2 separate regions of the Homo sapiens genome follow, and region 1 is linked to region 2. Evidence: fine-mapped expression QTL. Tissue or cell type: thyroid. Region 2 holds a variant in brackets; the other region holds the start of a gene. All regions are shown on one strand. Distances are between the middles of the regions.

What was found. PIP is the estimated chance that this variant, and not a neighbour inherited with it, causes the effect.
Region 1: TENM4 starts here. The variant in region 2 is fine-mapped to the expression of TENM4 in thyroid (GTEx, PIP above 0.99).

The regions. Positions count from the first base shown.
Region 1 is chr11:79,437,672-79,445,768 of GRCh38, forward strand. It overlaps TENM4 (teneurin transmembrane protein 4), which reads right to left and starts at 3,359. Exons shown (of 34, transcript NM_001098816.3): 1 at 2,838-3,359. RefSeq lists silencers at 2,948-3,057, 3,318-3,487.
Region 2 is chr11:79,217,252-79,225,356 of GRCh38, forward strand. The region is part of intron 2 of TENM4 (teneurin transmembrane protein 4); the gene reads right to left. Among named protein-coding and RNA genes, the nearest start is that of TENM4-AS1, 130 kb to the left of the region's middle. The variant A/G (reference allele first, on the strand shown) is at 4,773.

The DNA of each region.
Region 1 (8,097 bases), 220 kb after region 2:
CGAGGGGCTGGGGCGAGGGAGCTGGGATGCGCGGGCCCGGCTCGCCGGGAAACAGGTTGCCGCGGAGTCCCGTCCCCTCCCCCTCTGCGGTCCCCGCCGCGACCTGATTCCCGCCCTGCCCGGGGAGCTAACCCAGCCGCCTCCGGGGCGCCCTCCTTCTTCCTGGATTCCCACGGCTGGACCAGAGCCCCTCTGGCAGCCGGGTTAAAGGCTCCTTCAGCAAGGTCAAGGCGCGGCCGGCTGGCACCTGGGGATTTTTTTCCAGCCGAGCACTGGCTTTTCAATCGCATTGTTAAGGATCATGGCAGCGGCAGGAAATCCGAAGGGCCCCACAGGTCTGCGGGAGGGAGGATTTATTTTACAGCAAGGAACAGATTCAGACAGATCGGGGATTTCAGTGGGAGGGGACGAGAGGTTTCAGGACGCTGGAATGTGGCAAAAACAAAACACTCCCCACCCATGCACATCACCATCTCCTGACTGCGGGCTGGGGGGAAGGGAGTTCAGGGCCAATGTGTCCCAGACTTCAGCGTTCCCCACGGCTGTGTCAGGGCTGGGGTGGCTTATCCCCCTACAGACGAAAATCAAGATTTAAAAGCATACTCTTACTGTGGTTTCTCTATCAAAGCCCATCAACGTGATACACAGGCTGCGGCGCTGGAGGGAAGCGGCGAAACGGGGAGAATAAACGCAACAGAAGCAAACTGCTGTCTGCAGAGGCGAGAGGCGAAGGAACGGAAGCCATACCCGACCCCAGCCCCATCCCGTCCCCATCAGCGCCGGGCTAGCGCAGGAAACCAGGAATAGGTGTAGGTAAGGGTGGCAGCCCGGCAGAGCCAGCGTTCTACTCCCTCTAACCCCTCGCCAGCGTGGGCCTGGATGGCTGGGCTGCCTGGGCATCTCCAAGGGGGACCAGGCACCGCGGGCAGGTTTCTAAACACGTGAAGGGCACAGGGCTTGAAAGACAAGGAGGGGCGCCCAGGAAGGGCGGAAAAGAGGGGCTTTGGGGCTCCCCAGGACACCAAGTCAGTTTCTGAAAACGGCGTTCCCTGGAAGGCCTTCCAACACCTCCGAGGGAAGACTTGGAGCTCTGAAGACCCAATGAAACCTCAGTTCTGACTGACTCCTCCTCTGCGATCAATTCCGGATGCCCCCACTTAGTCCCTGCCTCGGTAACCGGTTCTTTGGGGACAGCAGCATCAGCACCCGACGCCCATCGCACAAGTGGGCGCCGTGGTGCGAGGCGTATCCTAGCTACCCAGGCCGGGGTGGGGGCGCCCCGGTACTTACACTCCCCAAGCAGGCAAACTTTCAGGCTTGTCTTTCGAGAACCGGGAGCTCGCATCACAGTTCCGGGTAATCACCGAGGCAGCTTATGTAATTGCCCGCGATGCCGCTCAGCAGATCTCTCTCCTTACTCGGCCTCAGAGCTCAGTACATGGGCACCCTCTTCCCCCCACCCCCCACCCCGGCGATTGGAATCCCGAGCTTGCCCCACCACCGCCTTCTACAAAGCAGCGGGGTGATCTCGTGTGCTACAAACACCAAGCCAGTATGCAGGTTCAGGCAAAACTCTGGCTGCCTCCCTGCGCCCCTTTCACTGCGTCGATGGTTTACAGATAACTGCATTTCTATAAACCCTCTCTCCACGGTTAGGGGGTGGGAGGGAGTTAGAGATCGGGTGGGGGCTTGGCGCGGTACTGTTGAGGGCTCTGCACCCAACTGAGCAGTAATACACTCATCCACATGGACGCGGGTGCATAAATCGCCTTAACATTTTGCCCTGAAAGCGGAGCCAATTTCCAAAGTTAAGGACCACGCAGCTGAATTTCCAGTACTTTCCAACCTCGCCTAGGCGGGGGCAGGCAGAGAAGGGGCGGGCAGCGGGCAGCTAACTCGCCCGACCCCCCCGCCAAGAAGGACTCACTAGGTGAACCCCCCGCCCTTCACCCAAGTAGTTGGTTGTGTATTCCTCGGTTGCGTGTGTGTGTCCACACACACACACACACACACACACACACGCCGCCCCACTACCTTCCAGTCTGCTCCTCCAATGTAACGACCGCATTTAAAAATGGCAATTAAAATGACTGAGGAGCTCGGTGATCACATTTCAACCCAGAGCACATTTCCCGAAGCTGGGGGTGAGAGTAGTCATACAGTCACACTCACACCCGGGAGCCCTCCAAGCGTCCATCTGGCGGCTGCAGCCTCAGTTGGCTCCTAGACGAACATCAATACCGCGGCCGGGCGCCCGGTGAGGAGAGGCGGGCGCCCCGCGGGTTGCAGAGGGCGAGGAGCTGGGGTCGCATCTCCAGGATCTGAGCTCCAACCACCGCCCGTGCGGGGCTGCTGCAGCCGGCACTTGCCCCGCAGGGCAGGCTGCAGCCGCTGAAGCCCGGCGCCGCCTCGCGGGCTCCTCCAGCGCCCGACGGGGGCCTGGGGCGAGCTAGTCTGCAGAGGGGCTGCAGGCGACCGGGCCGGGGCGGGGAACGGGATCCGGGAGAGGCAGACGAACCTGGGGCGCGCCGCCTCCCTCCCACCCGCTTCCCACCTCCCTGCCCTCCCCCAACCCTTGCTCCCAGGCTCCAGTCCGCGGCGGGCTCCGGGGGCTGCGGCGGCTCCAGGCTCCAGAACAGCTTGCCTCTTCGGCCACCCGCGCCCTAGCCTCCCTCCTCCTGGGCCAGGGGAGCAAGCAAACATCTCCCGGAGCCCTCGGCAGCCGCGTGAGCTACCCGAACCCTGCCCGGGCCAGCAGTGCAGAGGGCGATGGAGCTGGCGAGGCGTCGCCGCGGTCCCCAAGGCGCTTTTCCGTAGAGCGGATCACGCCGCCTTACCGTGGCTGCAGGCTGCTACCGCCGGGGAAGCGGCGAGGACGGCGGCAGGGAGGCAAGGCGCCGCGCCGGTGGCTCCTCTCTCTCTCGGCGGCGCGGCTCCTCTGCTCCGCGAGCCGTAGCGGGGCGCCCAGGAAGGAGCAGGTCCGGGCTCTGCGCTCAGCTCCAGCGAGACCAACAATAGCTCCCGCGGGGAGCGGAGCCCCAGCGAGCCTCCAGCCGCGCGCGCACGACCGGCTCCCGCTCCCGGCCGCTCCCGGCCGGCGTCCCTGCCAGCACTGCTGCCCCACATGAAACAGCTGCAATCCCGAGGCTTCTGGGGGGTTGGGGCGGGTGTGTGCGCGCGCGTGTGTGAGTGTGTGTGTGTGTGTGTGTGTTTAATAGCTTCCCTTCTCTTCTTCCCCTCCCTGCCTGCTCGCCTGCCTGCCTCCGTCCCCCACCCTCGCTCTCTTACACACAGAAAGAGAGGGCGAGCGAGAGAGAGACACACACACACACGCACACGCACACGCAGGTTACATGAATGGGAGGCGGTAGCCAATCCTACGAGGCCGGCGAGCCGCGCGGCGCACTGGCGCTGGGAGCAGGGCCGCACTCCGGCGCGGGGGGGCGCCACGCAGGTGATGGGCGCCTCTCCGGGGGCCACGCGCGGCCGCTCCCTCACCCCAGTCTCGGTTCCTCTGTCTCCTTCCCCCTTCCTCTCCGCCGCCTTCTCCATCTTCTCTCCTTTTACCTCCTTTGCTTTCTCGAGTTCTCCGAGCTCTCTCAGTTCGGTATCTTTCTGGTCTCTTTCTTCTTTTACCCTCCTTGCTTGCTTTCTCTTCCCCTTTCTGAAACTTTCTCTTTTCCTTTCTGGACTTTCTTGTACTTCCTCTCCTCTTGCCTTTTGTTCTTTCCTCCTCCTTTGGCTTTCTCTCCAGGCTCCCCGTAGCACGGTCTCGTCCCCTCTCCCTCCTCTTCGCCTTTCCCTGGGTCTCTCTGGCGCCCAGGGCCTCCCTTCTGCCTGCTCGCTGGATGTTACTCCACACCCCCCACCCCAACACTTTTCTAGGGACGGTCTCTTTCAAGTTGCTACTGCAGCACAATCAGAGTAATTAAGAGCTGAGATCTTGAGTTCCTTCTTCAGGCATGCAAGATGCCCAAAGAAAGGCCCTCCTTCCTCGGACAACTTCCCCAAAACCATGGTAACAGCTACTGAGTCGTGATAACAATCACTTAAAAAATAGCAGTGATTGCGGTCCAAGAGATTTCTGTCCCTCGAATGTTTGGATCGTGATGGCAAGCACATTTCCAAGAGAAGGGCATTTTTATGTGATGAGAGCGGTAGTTTGACTGAGTGGCAACTTGGAAGGGCTTTGGGGAAGAGACTGGAGGAATTCCCACTCCAGCCCTGCTGCCTGCTGGCTAAAGGACTTAGTGCGAGCCATTTCCCCTTACCCGGCTTCAGTTTTCTCATCTATAAAATGGATGATACCGACTTCACCAGTTTTGGTGAGGATTAAAAGAGAGAACAATGGAAAGAAAGCACTGGGTGTATATGAGATGCTTAATTTATGTTAGTTTCCTTCTTTAAGACAACTTCCTTCATGATCTTCTGCTACAGTGTGTCTCTCTGATCTAAAGTAGTCAATGAAGGAGGAAATGTGACAATGCTAATTTCACATAAATGTGAAAGGAGGGGTAGGCTATTTTGAAAACTCTTCTGTGTGGTGAGGAGACTGTCTAGCCAGTTGCCATATGCTGATTATAAAGGCATCACAGATTATAAACGTGGGGTGCTGGAATGCCCCTTCAACATCTCATAACTAGGGCATCTCAGAAAGGCAGGGATGGGTTGGGGTGGGTGGGAAGTTTCCACACAATCTGTCCAATCTATTTTTAAAATCTTTATGATAAGTGTACAGTGACCAGTGACAAAGCCTCTGAGATTAACTAAAATGTCAAGTCTCTGCCTTTGAATAGCATTTATCAACTTTGTGTCCTCACTGCAGACATCAAATGCTGGGCATCAGCTGTGATTGGCAGTTAGATTTAGTCCTTCAACAAATATTTCTTGACCACCTACTTTGTGGCAGGTGCTGTGATAGGTCTCGGCATTCAGTGGTGAGACAAACAGGCCCTGTTTTCTGAGCTTACAGTTCAGTAGGCATGTTTCATGAATGTACACTGAGAAAATGAGACACATGTACCTGAAGGAGTAACATTGGTTTGGTGGACAAATTCTTTCATTACAGAAGATCCAAGACAGGGAGTATAAGAAAGGGATCTTTGAGAGTGATAATTTTGCAAATCACTTTCAGTCTATGCATTTCATTTGACCAGTGAGAAAAATGAGACCCAGATGCTAAAAGTAGTGGGTGAAAGTATGTTGAGAAACAAAAAATATATATAGGTTCAAAGTATCTGCCCACATGATACTGATTAATTTCAAAGGGGAAAATAGTAACTTTTCAATAGAAAACCTGAAAGACTCCACCTTGAGTGATTAAAATCAGTATTAGCAGGAATGTGACAAATAGACATCAAGTGGCCCCTGATATAGTGCACTGGGAAGGACATATCACTTCTGTGATATTCCTGGTAGACATGAATAACCTGAATCTAATCATGAGGGATGCCCAATGGAATTGTTGGGAGTAAGGGAAGACTTCCCATAGGAGATGACAGGTTCTCACTCTGTCATCCAGGCTGGAGTGCAGTGGTGCCATCTTGGTTCACTGAAGCCTCAACCTCCTGAGCTCAGGTGATCCTCCCACCTCAGCCTCTTGAGTAGCTGGGACCACAGGCATGTGCCACCACACCACGCCAAACTAATTTTATTTGTTTGTTTGTTTGTTTTACAGATGAGGTCTCACTATGTTGCCCAGGCTGGTCTCAAATACCATCAATCCTCTGCCCTAGGCTTCCCAGAGTGCTGGGATTATAGGTGTGAGCTACCATACCTGGCCTTGAGCTGAGTTTTGAAGGCAAGGAATTAGCTAGACCGTGAAAGGAGGGGAGATGCTTTTTAGGTACAGGCAATAGTATGATGACATGGACAAAAGCATGAGACACTCATAGCAGAGTTGGACATATTGGGGGAGGGTCTTGGAGGAGTCTAGATGAGTCCCTAGCATCTAGGATTGGATTTTGACAGGGCCTGAAGGAGGCTAAGGATCCAAACATCCTGAAAGTTCAGGTACTGGGGCAGAAGGAGGGTAGACAGTTAATAAAGGCTTTTAAGAAGAGGAAGGATGTGATCTTGAGTGTGTTTTCAAAAGATGATTTGGCAGCAGTGTAGAGAAATGGATTAACTGGGGTGACTTAGGAAGAGTAGAGGCAGGAAAAAGTAGGTCATTTAGGGAAACTAAGGCAGTTGCAATGAAGCCAGAAAAGGGAGGAGAGATTTGAGAGAGATTGAGGATGATTTTGATTTCTGATTGGATGGGGGTAGCAAGGAGAAGCCCAAAGTGACACTCAGTTTTCAAGCTTGGGTATCTCAATAGAAGGTGGTACTACTCATTGCGATGTCAAGAGTATTCAGGAGGAAGTAGAATTCAGGGAGCATTTTAGAGGGGGGAAAAAAGGTCAGTTGCTACCATGTTATAATCTAACTCTATAGCTAACCGGAGATTCTCCTATATGGCTGCTCTGTGCCATAGGAAACACTAGTTGTAAAATTCAGCCTAAGACCTCCAAACAGCCAGCTCTACGTATTGCCCAGAAAAACAGGAGATTGGATATAATGACAGTACATTATTTGTAATAATGGGAAAAAAATTGAAGCAGCCTAAATGGTCAAATAAAATAAGTAAACTGGAGGACAGCCTTTGTTGGAATATTATGCAGCTACTCGAAAGTGTTTTTGCAGTTTTTCGTGCCATAAAAAAGTTAGTATTGTCATATATAATATTTTAAAAGAGAATTCAAAATTGTTAGCTACATAAAAACCCTCTTGCAGAAAAGTCTGAAGAAAAAAATGCCAAATATTAACCGTGTTTTCTTCTGGGTGATGGGGTTATGAGTAATATATATTTTCTTCTTTATACTTTTTCTGGCATTTTATAATCTTCCTACTATAAACATTCATTATTCCATTATAAAAACTTTTTAAAGCTGCCATTAAAAAAACACAAAGACATGGCTATGATCATTCCCCCTCCCCTGACTTTATCCCTTTTCAATCCACCGTTCCCACTCCCCCTGAAGAGTAACTGCGTTTTGAGTTTTATCTCTGAGAGTGAAATAAGGAGGCATTTAACAAATCAGGGGAAATTAGTAGCTGGGCTAGAGAGGGGGAGAGGGCATTCTTATGGAGGCAGATACATTATGAGAGCTGTTGAAACTGTATATATTAAAGATGTTTGCATTGCCCTTATTGATTCTGTGATATGTTACAAGCAAAAGAAAACATATAGTGGGGTCAAGAAAATGTGAGTCTTTAAAGGGCAAGTTTTAATTAGCAAATGTATTTATTTGCAAAAAAAAAATCCTTCCCTTCAGAGTCCAGCTGTTACTATAAAATTGTTTCAGGGAGTAAGTACTTCAAAGCAAGAAGACACTGAGGAGCAAGAGGCAATGCCTCATGCCTGTTGTCTGACACCACATCAAATATGCAAGTTGGTTACTTAGGATTTGGACACCTACTGATAAATGCCATCAAACTTCCATAATTAGAGGGTGAGAAAAGTGCCTGCCAGAGGATAGTCTCAGTCTTTGGAAAAGTTGCTGTAAATAGTTCCCTGGTGAGGTTACATCTGCATCTCTGATTTTCGTCTCACAGAAATATTTACCCTGTGGGTAATTTCCCCAACCTAATAATAATAACACCTTACACAGCATAGCCCTTTCACCTTTTCAAAGGGCCTCCGCATCTGTTGATTGACTCAATCCTTGTACCCACGCCTGCTGGAATCCTACTTCCAGTGTGCACCAAGAGGAAGAGGGACCCAGAGAGGTTCAAACAAAGAGGCAGAGCAGGGGCTAGAACTAAAAGAAGGAATAAGAGACATTCTTGAAGAGCCTTCTGTGTGGCCCTGGAGCTTCCACGGTGTGTTATCACATAGAATTGTGATAACTAGAGGGGGAGAGTGAACACACTGAGGCTTGTGAGGTTCTGGCTCAGCCGAATCAGAATCAGAATCCAGCTCTCCAGAACTCCCAAGCCACTTGCCTTTCCCAGCATAGCCCCATTTTTAAAAGCCAAGAGGTGAGGCTGGTGGTGATTTTCTGTCTGACTGACTCCATTTAATCTGTGAGCTGTCTTTCTGTGAGGTTTGTCTAA
Region 2 (8,105 bases):
GGAATTTGAATATAGGCCCTCAAAGACTCAAGGTCCCTGTACTTTTCCTGCCCCATACTGCCACACTCACCCATAAAAAATACTACAAAATGCCTTATTATACAAGAGACCTACTAGGCTAAAGAATAAGGCATGAAGGATACACTTAGGCATAGGAGGTTAACCCCCAAAAAGCCATTATTTGAGAAGTTCCCTGAATTCATTTTTCCCAAATAGATCTAGGATCCTAGCTTAAAAAACATTGCTGTTTATTATAAGGTGAGGAATTGCTGGGAATTCCCATGAAAAACAAAATCCACTTAATAGTAAAATTTTGTTGTCTTCATCTACATTTACTATGTTTCTTTATGGCAAATTATTTTAAATAAAGAGTAACTCTATTAGGCAGGAACATTCAGCAGCCTCTGGCCAAGTACAGAGTATCCTGTTGGTACTCTCCAGAGACTGGCTCTTGAACTACCTTCAGGGTAGAATTTTTTTTTTTTTTGAGATGAGGATTTTGCTCTTGTGGCCCAGGCTGGAGTGCAGTGGCATGATCTCAGCTCACTGCAACCTCCGCCTCCCAGGTTCAAGTGATTCTCCAGCCACAGCCTCCTGAGTAGCTGGGATTACAGGTGCCCACCACCACGGCTGGCTAATTTTTGTATTTAGATGGGGTTTCGCCATGTTGGCCAGGCTGGTCTTGGACTCCTGACTTCAGGTGATCCACCTGCCTCAGCCTCCCAAAGTGCTGGGATTACAGGTGTGAGCCACCATGCCTGGCCAGGGTAGGAAAATTAATGGGCACAAGTAAAGTTAACAAGAGTTTGGGAGTAAACCTAGAAAAATCCTTATAAATCATTATATTCATTAAGATTAAAAATAGGCAGTACACTAATTAGGATATGACTATCATTTTATGCATTTCAAATAGGCAATAATGGCTATTACATCTTTAATTTTTATTACCCTGCCTTGTTCATTAGAAGTTTACCCCCTGCCCACCCACCCCCGACACACACAACCCCACCCCAAGTTCCAAAGACAGCAGGAAATTGGCTGCCTTGGCTACAAAAATGGGCAAGGGAAAAGGTACTTTCTCTGGTGTTGGGGCTCTCCCCAAATGCCAAATGTCTGGTGGCTTTTAGGACACAGAGCTGTTAGCTTTGTCCCCAAGGGTCCTGCTGGGGTCCTAGTCATGTAAGTGATATGTACGTTTTATGCTTGGATGAAACACTCAAATTTCTTTCTCAGGCTCCCTTTTTTGTGTCTGGGTTATAAAACTCCATCATCTCTCCCTTCCCCTCACAGCTTCAGGCCAAAGCTTGTGACTTGGCTTCTCACCTGTGCCTTATGGTCCCTCCCCTCTTGAAGAAGCTGCAGAGCTACAGTTTTTACTCCTCTTCTGCCCTCATCCTTGCCAAGGCTTCAGGGAAAACCTCAACTGTTTGTCTTCAATCTTTCAATCTGTTTATTTCCTTTTCAAATCCCATCCCTAAATTCCCTTTTTTTCCCAGAGTACCTCCAGTAGACAAAACAAAGACAGTTAATGAAACTAAAATGCTCATTTGTTGCTGGAAAGTTTTTAAAAGTATTTATATGCTAGCATTCCGTTGAGGGGAAATTGAGTTAGGAAGGGATTATGGCATTATTCATTCATTCACATATTCACTCATTCATTCATATACTGAGGATTGTTGCTGGATAGAATACAATAATGATTCAGAAGCAAATCCTGCTTTTGGGAAGCTCATAGGCTGGCAAGAAAAACAAGACATAGCCACGGAGAACTATAATGTTTGGCAGTTTTGTAAGAGAGATGCAGACAGAACCTAATGTGTGGACAGAGGATGGAGAGATCGCCATGGCTGACAAATCATGGAAGACTGCCTTGCAGCAGACTTTGTATAAGGTAGGGGACATGGAGACAGGGCAGGTACTCCACATAAGGGAGGAGAGGCATGGGAGGTAAAAGCATGACAAAGAGCAAGTGTCGAGCTCAGCTTTCCAGCATGTGTAAGCTGTGCAGAGGGAAGTGGAGGACATCACACCCAACAAGAGATGTGGGCCTCAACAGGCTGGGGAATGTGGTCATTGTTCAGTGAGTAATAGGGAGCCTCTGAGTGCTGTTGAGCAGAGCAGAGATGTGACATAATTGGAGATCTGCTCTAGGAAGATGAATGTGGCAAGCCTTGCACAATATGAATTGGAAGTGGAGTTGCCTGGGGGCAGGGAGCTCCTAATTGTGTGCCAGGCATTGGGCAGGCTATTAGGTGCTTTGATGTTATTTAGCCTTCTAAATAACTGCAGGAGGCAAGCATTATCCTTCCAGACTTGCAGGTGAAGAAAGGAGACTCTGGGGAATCTAAGCTGCTTGCTCCAAATCCCCTAGTGAGGAAGCAAGGGAGACAAGATCCAAACCCTGTTCTTTTCCTCTCTAGGCAAGTCATAAAGCAAGCTGTAACCCTGTGCATGACACCATGTACCTGACACAACCGTCTTTCTTCTCCCAGTGCATCTCCTGGCTGTCCACCGGTATGTGGAGCTTGATCATTTCCTGGGCTGCCTTTCAGGAAGGCCCAGGTGGAATTAAATGCAGAGTGCCTCTGCTTCTGTTGGATTTCCCCCAAACTGACCACAGATCAAGGAGATAAGATGATGCCTTGAGTTAAGTCAGGTTCCAAAACAACAACACTGACTGCAGAGAACTGCAAAGGTAGCAGGAAACCACCCTCCTCTCTGGCAAGGAGTGTTAGTTTTTGTCTTTCCCTTCTCGGCTAAGCCGTGGTACCCGGAGCAGTGGATACAGAAACCCGGGAGAAAATCTTCTGGATACCCAGGAACCTGCTGGGTCCCTGAAGAATGTCAGTGAGAAACTCAGCGTTCCTGTGCCCTGGGCTGACCCCCTGTTTAGGGAAGGCAGCCCAGAGGGCTCCTAATGCACTCAGAACTGTATCATCGCACCTGCAGCCTGGAGGAGATGACCTTCCATCAAGACGCCTGCTATTAAAACTTTGTTTAAGGAAAATAAAAAGATATCCTCATTCTAAACATGGGACACAGTGATAGGTGTGTTCTGTACTTGACAATCAAGGGTTCCAGTTTGCTGAGGGGAAGCCTGGCACAGTGGCAAGAGGTGGAGCTTTGGAAGCAGAGTGGGGCTGAATCACAACTCACCCAGTCACCAGCTGTGCAGCGTTGGCCAAACCACTTAGCTTTTTACATTTCTTTATTATTAAATAGGAATAAAAATAATGGACTAGAGAGAATAAGTACCTGACCCTTAGTATATACATAATAATGTAGAATAATTTCTTCTAGTCTTAAATGTTCAACATCATGGGCATTGCTTTCTCAGGGAGGTAGCTTTCCTCCTCACAAATTTACCAATTGAAGGAATGAATCTTTAGAGAAAAAATGCTGAAACTACAGCAAGCTATTCCTGTCCTTCAGCTAGCTCTTATGTCCAGTGTCTTATAATTATTCATCTTTACAACTTTCTTTTCCACCAGACTGGGAGCTCCTTGAAGACAGTGACCACTATGTCTTCAATTCTCAGCACATAGTTCTTTCTACCTCAGCTACCTTATTTTGAGATCTGTACAAACTACAGAGTCTGTAGTTCTTCTGGGATTTTTATGCTCCCAGCCTGGTTTGAAGAGTGACTTTAAGCAACACCTTTAGGAGCACATCCAATCTTCTGAAAACCATCTCATTATCACGTAAATTATTAGCACAAAATACTTCACCTTGTTACTCTGCGAAGAGCTTTGGTTTCTAATCCAAGCCGATTATATGTGCCAGCATTTTCAATAACATCTTAATAATGCCAATCCTCCCAGGCCTCTGGACAGAATCAGACCAGGTGGAGAGATCCAGAGTTCAAAGGCATCCTGAAGGGGCATGGCAGCGGGGGAAGAAACGAAGCATCAAAATTGGATTCAAATCCTGGCTGTGCAGTTGGGACAAGCCAGCATAGTGCCTGGGATCAGGATAAATGCTCAGTAAAGGTTAATACCCTTCTCCTGACTCCTGAGAAAAGTAAAGAAATAAAACTTGTTGCAAATAAACAGGGAGAGAAGATCCACCACATTCCTGAGTCCATTTAGAATATGGATTTTTTTTAAGCCTTTCTAAGGACTGGATGAAGCAGGTTATTTCACTTTAATTATGGCAGCTGCAGCTGCTGCTTGTGGACTCAAAGACCAATTTTCACATTAAAAAGGGGGAAAAAAAAACATCCACACCCACACACAAACTCACCGAGAAACTTCACTGCATACACAGAAGAGCATCTCCTTCAGAGAGCACGTCAGTGAGGTGGAAAAATCTGGAATGCCCTGTTCTAGACACTCAGAGCCCAGTGGAAATCCCTGTGCGTGCTCACCCCTGCCTCTCCTCCCACCTTGCCTCCTCTCTGTCCTGAACGTCAAAGAGCAGCTCGTGAGCCACACAGCGTAATGGAATGTTTCTCGGTGAGCAGCTGCATATTTTTAATGCACACAAGGGGAAATAAAGGCAGCAGATGGTTTTATGTAATCTTCCTATGAATTTTGAACTGAGAGTCCTCATTCATGAAGACTTGAAAAGGTTTTGTTGTTTTTTTTCTTTTTTTACACGTCCTCTGTGGGTCAAGCCAACCAGCTCTGGACATGCCCTGGTGAGGCTGTGTGTGTTTGCCTCTGCCAGGGCAGGGAAGCTGAGAGGAGCCTGCTTGCCTTCTTCTGGCCTGGTTTCCACTCCGTGTTCTTTCTTGTGGTTCTTTGTCTGTGAACACACGAGTGGTCCTCAAC[A/G]TTCTCAGTGTTCACAATGGAAAACTCAAGGCAAACTCATGAATCCTTCATAGGCATAGGTGTGCTGTGAAAATCTGAACCTTATGTTCAGTCTTATGTTTGAAATGACTGAGGATCTGTGCTATGGCAGGGACATCTGTCAGCGAGAGGGTCAAGGGGAACAGGTGGGGCAGATGCACCAGTGTAAGAGAAAAGATAACAGTTCCCACTTTTAAGTGAGAGCATGCAGCGTTTGGTTTTCTGTTCCTGTGTTAGTTTGCTGAGGATAATGGCTTCCAGCTCCATCCGTGTTCCTGAAAAGGACATTATCTCGTTCCTTTTTTATGGCTGCATAGTATTCCATGGTGTATATGTACAACATTTTTTTTCATCCAGTCTATCATTGATGGGCATTTGGGTTGGTTCCGTGTCTTTGCTATTGTGAATAGTGCTGCAATAAACATATGTGTGCATGTATCTTTATAATAGAATGATTTATATTCCTTTGGGTATATACTCAGTAATGGGTTTGTTGGGTCAAATGGTGTTTCTTGTTCTAGATCCTTGAAGAATTGCCACACTGTCTTCCACAATGGTTGAACCAAGTTACATTCCCACCAACAATGTAAAAGCATTCCTATTTCTCCACAGCCTTGCCAGAATCTGTTGTTCTTGACATTTTAATAACTGCCGTCTGACTGGTGTGAGATGGTATCTCATTGGGATTTTGATTTGCATTTCTCTAATGATCAGTGATGTTGAGCTTTTTTTATACATTTGCTGGCTGCATAAATGTCTTCTTCTAGAAGTGTCTGTTCATGTCCTTTGCACACTTTTTGATAGGGTTGTTTTTTTCTTGTAAATTTGTTGAAGTTCCTTGTAGGTTCTGGATATTAGGCCTTTGTCAGATGGGTAGATTGGGAGCTGAACAATGAGAACACATGAACGCAGGGAGGGAAACAACATACATTGGGGCCTGTCAGGGGGTTTGGGGAGGGAGAGCATCAGGATAAATAGCTAATGCATGTGGGGATTAATAACTAGGTGATGGGTTGACAGGTGCAGCACACCGCCATGGCACACGTCTACCTGTGTAACAAACCTGCACATCCTGCACATGTATCCCAGAACTTAAATAAAATTAAATATAGAAAAAAAAAATAACAGGCTCTCATCTGAGAAAGATCGTGTGTTTAGAGGATATGCAAGAACTGCCTGTAAAAATGGCCTAACAAGAAGCACTGGCAGGGGAGAAAACTGTTCTCAAATAGCCACAAGTGCTAAAAAGCAGCCTGATGAAGTTTATGCTATCTGTGGAGAATTTTATCAATTTTCTGAAACTTGCTTTTATTTAAGCAATGTCCACCTTTAACCCCTTCAAGCACATCATCAAAAATTCTGGGATTTAAAAGTGCAGGACTAACACTAAGTCTAGTTCTCAACCACTGGAGTTGTCCCAGACCTCTGGGCCTCTGCTCAGAGGTCAGTGCTATTTCTAAAATGCAAACCTGACCCTCCTGTTCCCGGCTCAAAGCCCTTATTGCTCCCCTATTGTCACTGGGGGAGAAGAAATCCAAACTCTCCCCTATAGCAAGCAGTTCTTTTCACTGTCCAGCCTGGCCACCTTTCCAGCCCAGTCCCTGGCCATTCTCACCCCAGACCTTGTATGCTCCAGCTAAACCACAGTGTTTTTAACACCCCACTGTCTTCCATGGCTCTTCCTTTGGCCTCAGATGCCCCTGTAGTGCTTATCCACTAGTTTCCCTGGGCAGCACCCCATCATATTCTGGTGAAGCATCTCCCCTCTCCTGGGAACCCTTTTTCCCACTGCTCCCACCACGTGGGTTGTGACAGTCATAGGTGCTGTGCGTCAATTATTTCTGGCTCTCTACTTTCCAGGTACACTGTGAGAATGTCCACCCTGATAGGGCCATGTCACTAACTGTGGTGTGAGTTGTGAGCAGAAGTGTACCACTTTCAGGTGTTAGATTTAACTGCCAATACAAGACCCTCCAGAGCTCTCTTTCAGCACAGTTGGGATGGCTTGTCAGTCTGGGTCCCTGGGGACTACAATAAGCAGAAACCCCTCTCCTCTCACCATCTCTATTGCCCATAGAAGATGTGGAGTGTAAGACAGGATGAACTCCTTGTTGCTATCAATTCTCTATGATTTAGAGGATGATTTGTACCCAGCATGGACTGACTGATCTGACAGATTCATGGGTCCCATGACGATTGTCATGGTCTTAAACAATCCTGCCTCACTGGCTGTCATTGATTGGTTCAGGGCTGGGCACCTTAACAACGCCGAGTTAGTCATCGTTCCAGACCCGGTTTCTTCCCTTGAGGAGACCAGAACCTGATCAAAGATGAACCAATTAGAATTCTTCCCTGGGATTTCTGAAATCAGTAAGTGAAGGAAGAATGTAGTATCTAGTAGTGCAAATGGTAAGATGCAAAAACTGAGAGCAGTTGGTGGCCATGTGGGTGTTATGGGTTGAATTGTATCCTCAAAAAAGAAAATATGCTGGAGTCCAAACCCCCAGTACTGCAGAGTGGGGCCTTATTTGGAGATAAGGTCTTTATAGAGGCAATCAAGTTAAAATGAGGTCATTAGGGCAGGCCCTAATCTAATATGACTAGTGTCCTTATAAAAAGGGGAAACTTGGCCAGGTGGATGGCTCACGCCTGTAATCCCAACACTTTGGGAGGCCGAGGCAGGTGGATCATCTGAGGTCTGAAGTTGGAGACCAGCCTGGCCAACATGGCAAAACCCTGCCTCTACTGAAAATATAAAAATTAGTCCGGCATGGTGGCGCATGCCTGTAATCTCAGCTACTCGGGAGGCTGAGACAGGAGAATCACTTGAACCTAGAAGGCAGAGGATGCAGTGAGCAAAGATTGTGCCATTGCACTCCAGCCTGGGCAACAAGAGCCAGACTCTGTCTAAAAAAAAAAGGGGGAGGGGGGAAATTAGGACACAGAGACAGATATACACACAGGGAAGATGCCAGGTGAAGATGGGATTCACGCTGTCCCAAGCCAAAGAAACAGCAGAAAGAAAAGTCCAGGACAGATTCTTCCCTGGCACCTTCAGAGGAGCACGGTCCTGCTGACACCTTGATCTCACACTTTAAGCTTCCAGAACTATGAGACAATACGTTTCCAGTGTTTAAGCCACTCAGTTTGTAGCACTTTGTTCCGTCAGCCCTAGGAAATCCACAGAGTGAGGAAAGCACGTCTGCAGTGAGAGAAGGAAGCTTACACGCCTAAGAAAAGCAGACTGGAGCAGCAGAAAGGGTCAGAAAAAATCTAAACAGAATTAGAGTTCCAATTACAATTCTCCTGCATCTC